Linked DNA regions of Homo sapiens. The protein of the gene in region 3 purifies or fractionates together with the protein of the main gene of each other region. This does not show direct contact. Each region holds a gene or a part of one and is shown on either strand. Other genes may lie near its edges.

Evidence for each region.
Region 1: the proteins of RBMS3 (region 3) and RCC1L purify together in Homo sapiens (affinity purification with mass spectrometry; one large-scale study listed by BioGRID and IntAct). This does not show direct contact.
Region 2: the proteins of RBMS3 (region 3) and APOBEC3F purify together in Homo sapiens (affinity purification with mass spectrometry; one large-scale study listed by BioGRID and IntAct). This does not show direct contact.
Region 4: the proteins of RBMS3 (region 3) and MRPL48 purify together in Homo sapiens (affinity purification with mass spectrometry; one large-scale study listed by BioGRID and IntAct). This does not show direct contact.

The regions. Positions count from the first base shown.
Region 1 is NC_000007.14:75,063,803-75,067,302, forward strand, and holds part of RCC1L (RCC1-like G exchanging factor-like protein), read right to left. Parts: intron 2,991-3,500; coding exon 2,862-2,990; intron 847-2,861; coding exon 780-846; intron 1-779. UniProt on the Homo sapiens protein: Guanine nucleotide exchange factor (GEF) for mitochondrial dynamin-related GTPase OPA1. Activates OPA1, by exchanging bound GDP for free GTP, and drives OPA1 and MFN1-dependent mitochondrial fusion. Plays an essential role in mitochondrial ribosome biogenesis.
Region 2 is NC_000022.11:39,050,864-39,053,667, reverse strand, and holds part of APOBEC3F (DNA dC->dU-editing enzyme APOBEC-3F), read right to left. Parts: intron 1,595-2,804; coding exon 1,315-1,594; intron 1,092-1,314; coding exon 973-1,091; 3' UTR 1-972.
Region 3 is NC_000003.12:29,431,071-29,434,570, forward strand, and holds part of RBMS3 (RNA-binding motif, single-stranded-interacting protein 3), read left to right. Parts: intron 1-3,500. UniProt on the Homo sapiens protein: Binds poly(A) and poly(U) oligoribonucleotides.
Region 4 is NC_000011.10:73,786,468-73,790,673, forward strand, and holds the start of MRPL48 (large ribosomal subunit protein mL48), read left to right. Parts: upstream 1-1,406; 5' UTR 1,407-1,504; coding exon 1,505-1,525; intron 1,526-2,867; exon of another isoform or gene 2,868-3,023; intron 3,024-4,206.

The sequences.
Region 1 (3,500 bases), on a different chromosome or scaffold from region 3:
CCAGCTATTCGGGAGGCTGATACATGAGAATCGCTTGAACTTGGGAGGCGGAGGTTGCAGTGAGCCTAGATCTCACCACTGCACTCCAGCCTGTGTAACACAGTGAGACTCCACCTCAAACAAACAAACAAAAAATAAATAAAAATAAAATGAAAAAAATGAAATAAAAATAAAATGAATAAAGGGGAATGTTTAAAAATCAATTTGGTAAAATAAAAACTTAATTTGTAAAAATTCATCCTAAGAGGGCAGGACGTGGGGGCTCATGCCTGTAATCCCAGCACTTTGGGAGGCCAAGGCAGGCAGATCATGAGGTCAAGAGATGGAAACCATTCTGGCCAATATGGTGAAACCCCCTCTCTACTAAAACTACAAAAATTAGCCGGGCCTGCTGGCACGTGCCTATAGTCCCAGCTACTCAGGAGGCTGAGGCAGGAGAATCACTTGAACCTGGGAGGCAGAGGTTGCAGTGAGCCGAGATTGCGCCTCTGCACTCTGGCCTGGCGACAGAGCAAGAGTCCATCTCAAAAAAAAAAAAAAAAAATTTATCCGGAGGTTTTACACATTAAAACCAATGCTCATGCCCCCTCTTCTCCCACCAAGCTAACACATGGCGCTCAACCTGAAACAGACAGCACTCCCCCAGCTTTCTGCTGAGTTCTCACGGCCCCCTCTCAGGCATGCCTCTGACCGCCCCGCGGGTTTACCACAGTCATCTCCCTAGAAATGTTTTGACACTTAACTCAACATGGGGAAGGGTAGGCCTTTTAGGAACTCACCTGTAAATTTCATTTTCGACCACCTTTCTTCCACATTGCCCATAAGAATTGTTTCCCATGCTGAAGACTAAAAATAACACCACCAATCAAATCAGTTCTGCAGGTTTGTGGGATCCTAGAATGTGAGGACTGGAAGGGGTCTCGCTGGTGGTCCCGTCCTGGTTACTCACCCCCACCCCCCAACTGCCCCTGGGTTTCCTTCTCCAACTTTCTCAGGCTCTGCAGAAACTCACAAGGGGCATGGGGGAATCTAGACCCGCCTTCCCCTCCTGGCCCTAGATCCACTTCTTGGGAATTCCACCTTCTGAGGCTAGAACCGGACTCCCCACACCTGTCACCAGGCTGCCCTTAACACCAATCCCCTCTAGAAAGAGCCCCTAAATGCAGCGCCTCTGCCCTGTCTGGGAAGTGAGGAGCGCCTCTGCCCAGTCGTCAACTGTCTGGGAAGTGGGGAGCACTTCTGCCTGGCCACTGCCCCATCTGGGAAGTGAGAAGCACCTCTGCCCAGCCGCTGTGCAACCTTCCAAGTGTGAAGTGACAGCCTTGTGTGTGATCTTTCCCATCTTCCCCAAGTTTGCATTTTCGACATTAACGTTTACTTTTTAATTAAAAAAAAAAAAAAAGAAAGAGCTCCTAAATGCCACCTCCGCCTTCTCCTACAGAGCACACTCAGCCAGAAAATGAAATTTGAGGCTAGGCACAGTGGCTCATGACTGTAATCTCAGCTTTTTGGGAGGCCAAGGCAGGTGGATCACTTGAGGTCAGGAGTTCGAGGCCAGACTGGCAAACATGGTGAAACCCTGTCTCTACTAAAAATACAAAAATTAGCCAAGCACAGTGGTGGGTGCCTGTAGTCCCAGCTACTCGGGAAACTGAGGCAGGAGAATCACCTGAACCCAGGAGGTAGAGGCTGCAGTGAGCTGAGATCGTGCCACTGCACTCCAGCCTGGGTGGCAGAGCAAGACTCCGTCTCAGATAAAAAAAAAGAAAAATGAAATGTGAAAAATGTGATCACATTGACCTTTCCCTGGAAAAACCCCGTTTCTAAAAAGAGGCCATGTTACCCAGGGGCCCGGACTCTGAAAGCCCCCAACTACTTAGAGTATGTGTTAGCAAATAGGCTTCTTTCAATTCCAATAGAAAAAGCCACTTCCGGCCGGGCATAGTGGGTCACGTCTATAATCCCAGCACTTTGGGAGACCGAGGTGGGCGGATCACCTGAGGTCAGGTGTTCAAGACCAGCCTGGCCAATGTGGTGAAACCCCGTCTCTACAAAAAATACAAAAATTAGCCAGGCGTGGTGGCAGGCACCTGTAATCCCAGCTACTCGGGAGGCTGAGGCAGGAGAATTGCTTGAACCTGGGAGGCAGAGGTTGCAGTGAGCCAAAATCACACCAGTGCACTCCAGCCTGGGCAGCACAGCGAGACTCTGTCTCAAAAAAAAAAAAAAGAAAAAGCCACGTCTACACACCACCCAGCTCAGGGACTTCATAGCAAATGGATCAGGCTGCCTTGTGTGCAGTTACATTTATAAATACATGTGATTTTCCAAGAACCAGAGAGCAGAGCACATAAGAATCAACAAGGTGGCCAGGTGCAGTGGCTCACGCCTGTAATCCCAGCACTTTGGGAGGCTAAGGCGGGCGGATCACGAGGTCAGGAGATTGAGACCATCCTGGCTAACATGGTGAAACCCCGTCTCTACTAAAAATACAAAAAATTAGCTGGATGTGGTGGCGGGCACCTGTAGTCCCAGCTACTACTCAGGAGGCTGAGGCAGGAGAATGGCGTGAACCCAGGAGGTGGAGCTTGCAGTGAGCCGAGATTACACCACTGCACTCCAGCCTGGGCGACAGAGCGAGACTTCATCTCAAAAAAATAATAAATAAATAAAAATAAATAAAGAATCAACAAGGTTTGTCCAGCTGTCTTGAGCAATCCCACTGATCTGCTCAGGAAATACCACATTTCACTCATTAGATGTGGCTCAATCGATCAAGCCACTCAGGCCTGATTTGAGGCTCCAGTTCACAGTGAAATGGTCCCTGCACTCTTCCATCACCCTTCAATAGGTCAACTCACCTCCTTCCCTGTCAGTCAACACAAGAGAGTGAGCTCGGCCGCAGGAGACCTGCAGCACCCGTGTCTCCTGAGGTCTGTCCAGAGGCAGGGAGACGGGTGAGGGCTCCAACACATACTCGTAGCCCCTCGCTGGAAAAGACACAGGACACTGATTGAGGCATGCATTTCTACCACTGGAAATCATACTGTCCAACTCCACGCTACTACACTGGAAAAAAGAGAGTCGGAGGTAGGAAAGACTCATCAAGACAGGTAAGTTAGGCGCAGAGCAAGGACCAGAAGCCCAACTCCCAGCCCATGGCATGGGCTGTCTCTATTACATAATGCGGGTTCCAGAAAAGCATACTTGGTCTTCTGGCTGGGCGCAGTGGCTCATGCCTGTAATCCCAGCACTTTGGGAGGCCGAAGCGGGCAGATCACCTGAGGTCAGGAGTTCGAGACTAGCCTGGCCAAAATGGTGAACCCCATCTCTATTTAAAATACAAAAATTAGCCGGGCATGGTGGCGGGCGCCTCTAATCCCAGCTACTCGGGAGGCTGAGGCAGAAGAACTGCTTGAACCCGGAAGGCGGAGGTTGCAGTGAGCTGAGATTGCGCCATTGCACTTCAGCCTGGGGGACAAGAGCGAGACTTCATCTGG
Region 2 (2,804 bases), on a different chromosome or scaffold from region 3:
CCCATTTCAACTTTCATACCCATTTCGGTTGAGTTTATTTATTGATTTATTTTCAGGCAGGGTCTCGATCTGTTGCTCAGACTGGAGTTCAGTGACGTGATCTCAGTTCACTGCAGCCTCCACCTCCCCGGCTCAAGCAATCCTCCCACTTCATCCTTCCAAGTAGCTTCAACTACAGGTGCATGCCACCACACCTGTTTTTTTTTTTTTTGTAATTTTTTTGTAGAGATGGGGCTTTGTCATGTGGCCCAGGCTGGTCTCGAATTCCTGGGCTCAAGCGATTCTCTCACCTCTGCCTCCCAAATTGCTGGGGGATTATAGGCATGAGTCACCGCGGCCAGCCTAGGGTGAGTTTAATAAGATTTGGTTGTGCCGCCGGGCCAGTGGCTCACGCCTGTAATCCCAGCACTTTGGGAGGCTGAGATAGGCGGATCACCTGAGGTCAGGAGTTCAAGACCAGCCTGGCCAACATGGTGAAACCCAGTCACTACTAAAAATACAAAAAAAAAAAAAGTTAGCTGTGCGTGGTGGCAGGCGTCTGTAATTCCAGCTACTCGGGAGGCGGAGGCAGGAGAATCGCTTGAACCTGGTAGGCAGAGTTTGCAGTGAGCCAAGATCAAGCCATTGCACTCCAGTCTGGGTGACAGAGCGAAATTCCGTCTCAAAAAAAAAAAAAAAATATTAGGTTATGCTGGGGAGATGGGAAAAGGCAGGTTAGGGGCATGCAGGCTCAGGGAACAGGGTCTTGGTGGGTGGATGGATAGCCATGGAGGCAGAAAGAGGCCTCTGCAGGAAGAGCCTGGGAGAGCGGAGAGGAGGTGGTGAGGCAGGGGAGCACTATGGAATGGCCCTGAGGCCAGGAGGGGCTCAGGATGACCAGGCAAAAGCACAGCTGGTCCAGGATGGAGGGGAGGCCTGCACAACATGAGCAGGAGGCTAGAGGAGACAGACCATGAGGCCCGGGGAGACCCCTCACTCGAGAATCTCCTGCAGCTTGCTGTCCAGGAATAGAAAGTTGTATTTTAGTCCTTTCCAAGGCTTGAATGGCTCATCATCATTGTACACAAAGTTTTCCCAACAATATTTAAAATCTGAGAAAAAACAAGGAGAAAGCAGTGAGGGCCCAGCAGGCTTCTCTCCCAGCCCTGGGCCCTCCCCTCCAAGCCCAGGTCTCCTGACTGCCAGTTGCAGTGGACACTGGCGCCATCCCTGCAGGCTTCCCGGGACACTGCCCCGCCCCACGGCATTGCAGACACACCTGCCCCTCATGCTGTCCCTCCCGCACCCACTCTCCTCAGCCCCCCAACGTCTCACCTTTGTAGCCCATGATCTCCACGGAGGCCCCTTCCTGACTCAGGCTGCGGAGCCCCTCCTGGTAATCTGTATCCCAGAAGTAGTAGAGGCGGGCGGTGAAGATGGTGAGATTCACGTTGCTGTGCCTGGCCAGGAACTCGGCCACCTCCCCTGCACACTCTGGGCAAGGGCTCCAAGATGTGTACCAGGTGACCTCGTAGTTTGTGTTAGGAGACAGTATGTCGTCACAGAACCAAGAGAGGAAGCACCTTTCTGCATGACAATGGGTCTCAGGATCCACCTGGGGAAGGAGGAGGAGGAGGGCAGGGGAGCTCAGACTAGGAGCAGGAGGAGTGCAGGGGTGGGGCGATGGGAGCAGAGGGCGGGCCTGGAGCCCCAGGGCGTTTCCTTATTTATTTTTGAGACAGGGTCTCTCCTGTTGCCCAGGCTGGGGTGCAGTGGTGCGATCTGGGGCTGACTGCAGCCTTGACCTCCCAGGCTCAAGGAATCTTCCCACCTCAGCCTCCTGATTAGCTGGGACTGCAGGTGCGTGCCACCACGCCTGCCTAATTTTTTTGTAATTTTTGTAGAGACTGGGTTTCACCATGTTGCTCAGGCTGATCTCGAACTCTTGGGCTCAAGCCATCCTCCTGCCTCACCCTCCCAAAACTCTGCGACTATGAGCATAAACCACATGCATGGCCTTATTTTCTTTACTTCTCATTTTTTTGGGTACATACTAGGCCCCAGGGCTTTTTACTCATTGAATTTCCCTTCTTCCATCCTTCTCCTTGCTCTTTATTTTTTCTTTTCTTTTTCTTTCTTTTTTTTTTTTTTTGATACTGAGTCTCGCTCTGTCACCCATGCTGTAGTGCAGTGGCGCGATCTCCGCTCACTGCAAGCTCCGCCTCCGGGGTTCACGCCATTCTCCTGCCTCAGCCTCCCAAGTAGCTGGGACTACAGGCGCCCGCCACCACGCCTGGCTAATTTTTTGTATTTTTAGTAGAGATGGGGTTTCACCGAGTTAGCGAGCATGGTTTCAAGCTCCTGACCTCGTGATCCCCCGCCTTGGCCTCCCAAAGTGCTGAGATTACAGGCGTGAACCACTGCACCTGGCCGTTCCTCTTTATCTTTTTGAGTGACAGAGTCTTGCTCTGTCACCCAGGCTGGGGGGCAGTGGCAAGATCTCGGCTCACTGCAACCTCTGCCTCCTGGGTTCAGGCGATTTTCCTGCCTAAGCCACCCAAGTAGCTGGGACTACAGGGGCACACCCCCACGCCTGGCTAATTTTTGTAGTTTTAGTAGTGATGGGATTTCACCATGTTAGGCAGGCTGGTGTCAAACTCCTGACCTCATGATCCGCCCGCCTCAGCCTCGCTAAGTGCTGGGATTACAGGCGTGAGCCACTGCACTCGGCCCCTTCCTTCTTTATTTTATTGAGTCTTTTCCTGTCTCATCATAGGTCATGTGTGATTTCTGGCATCCTGTTCCCCAGGCATCCGTTAACCGGG
Region 3 (3,500 bases):
GAAATAAGTCATAGTTTTTGATGCTAGCTAAGAAACTTGAGCTTTCTGTAGATATTAAATTTCAAAAGGCAATGAATATATTCTATTTAATCCAAATACCAGGAAAAGAAGGTTTTATCCTGTATAATTCATTTTAAAATTCATTTTAAAATTCTATGTGAAAAATGTTGATACTAAAGCAATACTAAAGAATAGTTGAGAAAAATGTTTCTTTCTTTCTTTTTCCTTTTCTTTTTTTTTTTTGACAGAGTCTCACTCTGTCGCCTGGCTGGAGTACAGTGGCGCAATCTCGGCTCACTGCAACCTCTGACTCTCGGGTTCAAGTGATTCTTCTGCCTCAGCCTCCTGAGTAGCTGGGATTATAGGCACATACCACCATGCCCAGCTAATTTTTGTATTTTTAGTAGAGATGGGGTTTCACTATGTTGGCCAGGATGGTCTTGATCTCCCGACCTTGTGATCCGCCCTCCTCAGCCTCCCAAACTGCTGGGACTACAGGCGTGAGCCACCGCGCCCAGCCAAAAAACGTTTATTTCAAAGAAGAAATCTGGAGGCTCTGGGTTTTGCTCCTGTCATGTCTATTCTTTCACTTGTGCATTTCTCAACTGTTGGTCAATGTGTGTTTGCGTTGCACAATTTTCTTTCTTTGTTATTTTTACTTTTTATTTTTTCTGAGACTGGGTCTTGCTCTGTTGCCCAGGCTAGAGTGCAGTGGCGCCATCATGGCTCACTGCAGCCTCAGCCTCTAGGGTTCAAGTGAACCTCCCACCTCGGCCTCCTGGATAGCAGAGACCACAGGCACATGGTACCACACCCAGCTAATTTTTGTGTATTTTTTATAGAGATGGGGTTTTGCCATGTTGTCCAGACTGGTCTCGAGCTCCTGGGCTCAAGCAGTCCACCCATCTCAGCCTCCCAAAGTGCTAGGATTACAGGCGTGAACCATAGTGCCCAGTCTGGACAATTTTCTTATTCCCAACCTACCCTGCCTTCCCAAAAATAAGGGGCATAAAAGGTGAAACATGATAGAAAGCTTGAAGCTCGCTGCATATGAGATGGTACAGTCTCTGGCTGAGGGAAACAATGGGAATTCAGAGAAAAGGAGGTTTCCAGGAGGCTGTTTGAGATTTTGGTGGCTGACTGTATTCTGAGATTTAGAATTAAGAAGCAGATAAAGCTAACACCAAGTTTTCTAGCATGGAGACTGGCAGAACAACAGCAACATTGAAAGATATGGGGTAATTGTATTGGGTGGCTGGTGTGGGGAATTGGGAATGAGAGAATAGGTGCAATGGGTTGCATGTGATATACTGAATCTAAAGCACATTGTCTTATAGACAGTGGGAAATAGGGACTGACCAAATTTAAAATCCTGGAAGGTGTAAAACAGATTACTATTGCAAGAAATGAAGCTGGGTACTGCTAAAACTTGGCCTTCTTTCTCTAAATGCTAAGTGCTGTCTTTATTCCATTTTTTATTATATATATAGTAACCTAAATATTTCTCAAGCACCTACTGTATATCAGGCACTAGGCTACATACATGACATACTCATGTATGGTTTGACACATTCCCTGCTCTCAGGAAACACAGATTACTGTTAGAGGCAGGCATTAAATAAGCCAAAAATAATTAAATAAGACCCAATACACTGAAAGCTGTGAAGGAAAATACCAGAGTGTTGTAGGATGATACTTAATTTGAAATCAGAAGGATGGATTAGAGCCAGCCGAGTAGAGTGGGGCTGAGAATGGGAAGGGTGAAAAGTTGGGAGTACCACAGTGTCTGGTCTAAGAAGTGATTGGAGAAAAAGTCTGATAAAAAATCATGTGGAGCTTTCAGGACTTTGTAATAAGTTTGGTGGGAAGCCACTGCAGGATTCTACATACAAAGTTTAGCTGTCTGTGATTAAGGCCACAGTCAGTTCTATTTCCAGGACATCTCATTATTTACCCAGACCCACTAGGCCTGTCAATTTGGTCAGCAGCAGAAGTTTTGGGATGAAAAGACATACTATTTTCATGTTGAATATGTTTCTTGAGGTTTTTTTTTTTAGAATGAAACTGTAGAGACACAAAGTACATTTTTTTCCCTCAGATTATATTATTCCTTACCTTTATGCCATGGCACAAAATGTATTATAGTTTGACCTCATCTGAATACTTACTTGCTAATGTGCCAAAAATGTGCTGTTTGACAAAGACATACCTCCCAAATCTGATAAAATAGCTAAAGACTCTTCATCTTCAGATGAGAACCCAGCCCAAAGTTTCCCCACTGGAATCTTGATGAATGTGCTTATTTTGTTTTTGGGTAGCATTTGGGGTCACAACTGAGAAAATCTGGGACAGTTATATAGGTTGATATTACTACAAGACAGATACAAACCATGAATATTCATATTATTGTTATTTTTGCTAATATTGTACACTTATTAATTTCTAGGAACCATTTTGTTTGCATTAACTCAACTTTTTGAAAAAATCTTCTAACTTAAGAGAGTACCGTTATTATCTCCTTCGTATTAATGAGAATGCTGCTTCTCAGAGAGGTTAAGGCACCACTTAAAGGTCACATAGCCAGTAAGAGGCACAGCAGGGACTCAACCCTAGACAGTCAGTGTTAGTTGAGAACTTTTGAAGATATGCCTGTATAAAAAAAGAAGCATAATTAGTAAATATATATCTATGAATTCTGGTATGTATAATTTTAAAAACCCTCACATTGTTTATTGCAATTTTCTGGGAGTCATTTTATCATTTTAATTTTGCCATATAATAATGTAATGAATTAAAACAGCGGTTCTCCCAGGGGGAGATTCCTACCAGCACCAGGGAGCATTTGGCAATGTCTGGGAATATTTTTTGGTGATCACATCTGGGGAATGGGCATTACTAGAATCTGGGAGATAGAGGCTAAGGATGCTACTAAACATCCTACAGTGAACAAGGACAGTGCCCACAACAAATAATTATCCTGTCCAGATGGTTTATAGTGCCTAGGTTGGGATCCTGGATTAGAGTAATTTAAAGAGGATCTTGAAGGTAAGGAAAGAATGGTAGCTCCATCTTGCAAACAAGGAACATTCAATGTAAAGAAACGATTTTGGGAATATGAGAAAGAGCTAAGATGGTTTCATTCATTCAGTCATTCATAGAATCACTATTTATAGGAATGATTTCTTTGTATCAGGAATTATGCTGAACAGTAATGTTGAGGAAAACAATAGGAGGGAGTTTCTTTGGAGAAAAGGAGGGAACAAGGTAATAGAGGGAAACCAAAGATGCTTGGGTATTAAAGGTAAGCTAGGGTCAGAGTTTATTGCCAAAAGTGACTGTTTTATTTTATTAGGGAAGAAGATATGCTACTTTACCAATCTAAGGAGAGTCACTATAGTCAGAGACAAGTTCAAATGCCATATGCTACTGCCAGGAGCACCTGATAACTGTTTTTTGTCCCTTTTATGGCTGACTTATGCTGATCTGAATGGAGGGCCAGG
Region 4 (4,206 bases), on a different chromosome or scaffold from region 3:
GGCTCCTGAGTAGCTGGGATTACAGGCATGCACCACTACGCCCAGCTAATTTTTGTATTTTTAGTAGAGACGGAGTTTCACAGTTTTGGTCAGGCTGGTCTCAAACTCCCGACCTTGTGATCCGCCTGCCTTGGCCTCCCAAAGTGCTGGGATTACAGGCATGAGCCACCGCACCCGGCCATGTATCTTATTAGATTGTATTTACCTGGACTAGACAAGGAAAGAAACTCTCTGGCTGCCAACCTGCCCTTTTGCAAACCTATAGTCACAGTCCCATAAAATAGATGAAGCACAGGCACGGAAATGAAACAGCTCACCACTTATATAACATTATGTTAACTAGGTACCTTCTTCCTGTCTCTGTTCCTCATCTGTGAAATGGGTATAATGATCCTCAGCCTCATAGGGTTATTGGAAAGACTAAATGAACCCATACACCCATAAAGAACCGACCTGGCACATACTAGCATTTGATTGATTTTTTTTTTCTTATTTAAAATTTCACTTCTAAAACCCCAATAGCATTTATTAGGCAATAATCAATCACTGTACTGGAGGAGGTATGCCTGGTCCATTATATTTCCAAGCATAATTAATTGTCGTATCTGTGTTACCTCAGTACTTTGCACACAATTCTGGTATTTCACTTACCATACTAGATACTAATTATTTGTTACTAGATACTAATTATTTTTTGCTATTATTTTGATTGAGTTCCTCAAGGACTGAGATCCTGACTAATTTATTCCAGCATCTAGCACAGGACGTGGAAATCTGACTTCTAAACTCAATTTAAGAGATGATTGGCTGGGCCTGGTGGCTCACGCTTGTAATCCCAGCACTTTAGGAGGCCGAGGCGGGCGGATCACCTGAGGTCGGGAGTTCAAGACCAGCCTGACAAACATGGAGAAACCTCATCTCTAGTAAAAATATAAAAATTAGGCGGGCGTGGTGGCGGGCACCTGTAATCCCAGCTACTTGGAGACAGAATTGCTTGAACCCGAGAGGCGGAGGTGGCAGTGAGCTGAGATCGTGCCACTACACTCCAGCCTGCGCAACAGAGCGAGACTCCGTCTCAAACAAACAAAAAAGTCAGATCTGTGCTAGACGCTGAAAGGAATTAATCAGACAGGATCTCAGTCTTTTAAGAACTTTCAAATACAGAGAAGAGGTGGTAACAAATCATTAGTGTATAATATTGTAAGCGAAAAATTAGAATTGTGTGCTAAGTACTGGGGTAACACAGAGATGGTAATTAATTCTTTCTGGAGAAACAGCAGTGAATGTGACAACCTGAGTGAGGGTGGAAAGCAGGAGAATTTCTAGACTCTGAATTTCAGAAGCTTCCGGAACTAAAATGATGTGGAAGTTGAGTGAGTCTCGGTGGGATATTGCTGCTGCACCTGGTCAAGGCCGTTCCTTCAGTGTTTTCAGACGCCCTGGGAACGCGGCTGCAGGGTCCGGTCTTCGGTTTGCACAGCTAGAGGCCGCGCAGCAGCAAAGGATGAGCGGAACCTTGGAAAAGGTAACGTAGATTCCACGCACGCGGGGCGCGGGGAGATGGCGGACGGTGCAGAGAGGGGAGATGGCGGAGGGTGCAGAGCGGGGAGGTGGCGGCGCGCGGACATCCGGGGATGAGACACTGGGGCGCCCAAGGTCCTTCCCAGCAGCACATGCGGCTGCCTGGCGTTGAAGGGGCTGAGCAGATTCCTTTCCACCCGGGGCGAACTCTGCCGAGCCGACCCGTGCCACGCCCACACCACATGCCACTCTCTCCACCCAGTTTCTGGAAAAGGGAGAGCTCTGCGATGGGAATCACGACACCAGGATACGGTCCCGATTAACTGTGTGACCTTGGGCAGGTCATTTTATATTTGCATTCAGTTATCAACTTCCAGAATTTTTTCTAAGAATGCAGTTTTGACTTGCTGAACTGATGAGGATGTGAAGCTACCTGGTAATAAGGAAACAGCAGTAATAAACTAGGTTTTTGTTCTTTTCTTTCTTTTTTTTTTTTTTTTTTTTTTGACGGATTTCGCTCTGTTGCCCAGGCTGGAGTGCAGTGGTGCGATCCCGGCTCACCACAACCTTCGCCTTCCGGGTTCAAGCGATTCTCCTGCCTCAGCCTCCTCAGTAGCTGGGACTACAGGCGCGGGACACCATGCCGGGCTAATTTTTGTATTTTTAGTAGAGACGGGGTTTCACTGTGTTGGCCAGGCTGGTCTCGAATTCCTGACCACGTGATCTGCCCGCCTCGGCCTCCCAAAGTGCCGGGATTACAGGCATGAGCCACCGCGCCCTGCAATAATTAACAACATTTTCGTTTCCAAAACCTTATTTAAGTGACTGTCATAAAACCGTATGAACCACTATAAATGTGTTCCTGGGCTTTCTCCCGTTCCCTTAACAGATTTAACAGATTTCATTTGTGCTCTTTCAATTGTATCATGCTGCTTAGATTAATGACTCATTTTAGCAATTTATATTAAAATTTTGTTTTAGGCATTAATTGTGGCAACTATATTTCCATGATTCATAGGTCAGCATGGTCGTTGCAGCTCATGGGTCTACCTGTGGTTACCTTGGGGCTGCCCTTGAATGTGTGAGGGCCCACGCCTCACTTCATCCTTTATGAAACAATTCACTTGTTCACCTTAGCCAGTTTGTAAGAATTTGGCCAAATATGGTGCCAAGATAATAGAAAAAAAAATCAGAAAGTTTCAAAATTCCATTGTTAAAGATGGTCACACTGGTGACTACACTCCTTGATTTGCCTTGGTTCCAAGAAGGGCTAAAAGGGAGGGATTATTTTTCAAGGAATACTATTTCCAACCATTCGGTTCTCCATGTTTCACCATATTGCTCAGGCTGGTCTGGAACTCCTGGAAAAGAGCCCATGGAAATCTGTCATTAAGGCCAGCATCTGACATGGGTATATAAGGCCTCTCGACGTCTGATGCCACTGTTCTCTTCCCGACTCCTTAGTTGCTTTAGTCAGCTAACCTCGTCATTATTTGCCAAATGTAAGTCTGTCTCAAAGTGTTAGTTAATACTTTACATTTATAAGGAAGGTCATGGGATTTGTCAGACAGTTCTGTCTCTTGTTATGACCTTGGGCAAGTTATTTAACTTTACTGCTTCTGTTTCCTATCTGTAAAATGCAGATGATGCCCACCACATGGAATTGTAGAGACTATAGGGAATAATGTAAACAGGAATATTTTGTAAGGAATGAAGGATGATGCAAATAATAATATTGATATTGTTCTATAGTTAATAAATTTTCATTTACACAATTTCATTTGATCTTCACAATATCACGAGATAATCCTGGCAGATGCAACAGATGAGGAAATGGAAGCCTCATGTCTGGTATATAATAGAGACTTTAATGTCATACTGATGGCTTGAATGAATGACTGGAACCTAGGCTTTGTTTTTGTTTAGAGACAGGGTCTCACTTTGTCACCCAGGCTAGAGTGCAATGGTGCAGTCATAGTTTACTAAATCCTTGAACTCCTGGGTTCAAGTGATTCTTTTCACTCAGCCTCATGAGCAGCGGGGATTACAGGTGTACACCACCATGCTCAGCTAATTTTTTTTTTTTTTTTTTTTTTTTTGAGACAGAGTCTCCCTCTGTCGCCCAGGCTGGAGTGCAGTGGCGCGATCTCGGCTCACTGCAAGCTCCACCTCCCGGGTTCATGCCATTCTCCTGCCTCAGCCTCCTGAGTAGCTGGGACTACAGGTGCCCACCACCATGCCCGGCTAATTTTTTGTATTTTTAATAGAGACGGGGTTTCACCATGTTAGCCAGGATGGTCTCTATCTCCTGACCTCGTGATCCGGATCCGCCCACCTCAGCCTCCCAAAGTGTTGGGATTACAGGTGTGAGCCACCGCACCCGGCCTTTTTTTTTTTTTTTTTTTTTTTTTTTTGAGACAGCGTTTCGCTTTGTCACCCAGGCTGGAGTGCAGTGGCCCGACCTCAGCTCACTGCAAGCTCCGCCTCCCGGGTTCACGCCATTCTTCTGCCTCAGCCTCTGGAGTAGCTGGGGCTACGGGTGCCCGCCACCACACCTGGCTAATTTTTTGTATTTTTAGTAGAGACGGGGTTTCACCGTGTTAGCTAGGATGGTCTCGATCTCCTGACCTCGTGATCTGCCCACCTTGGCCTCCCAAAGTGCTGGGATTACAGGCTTGAGCAACC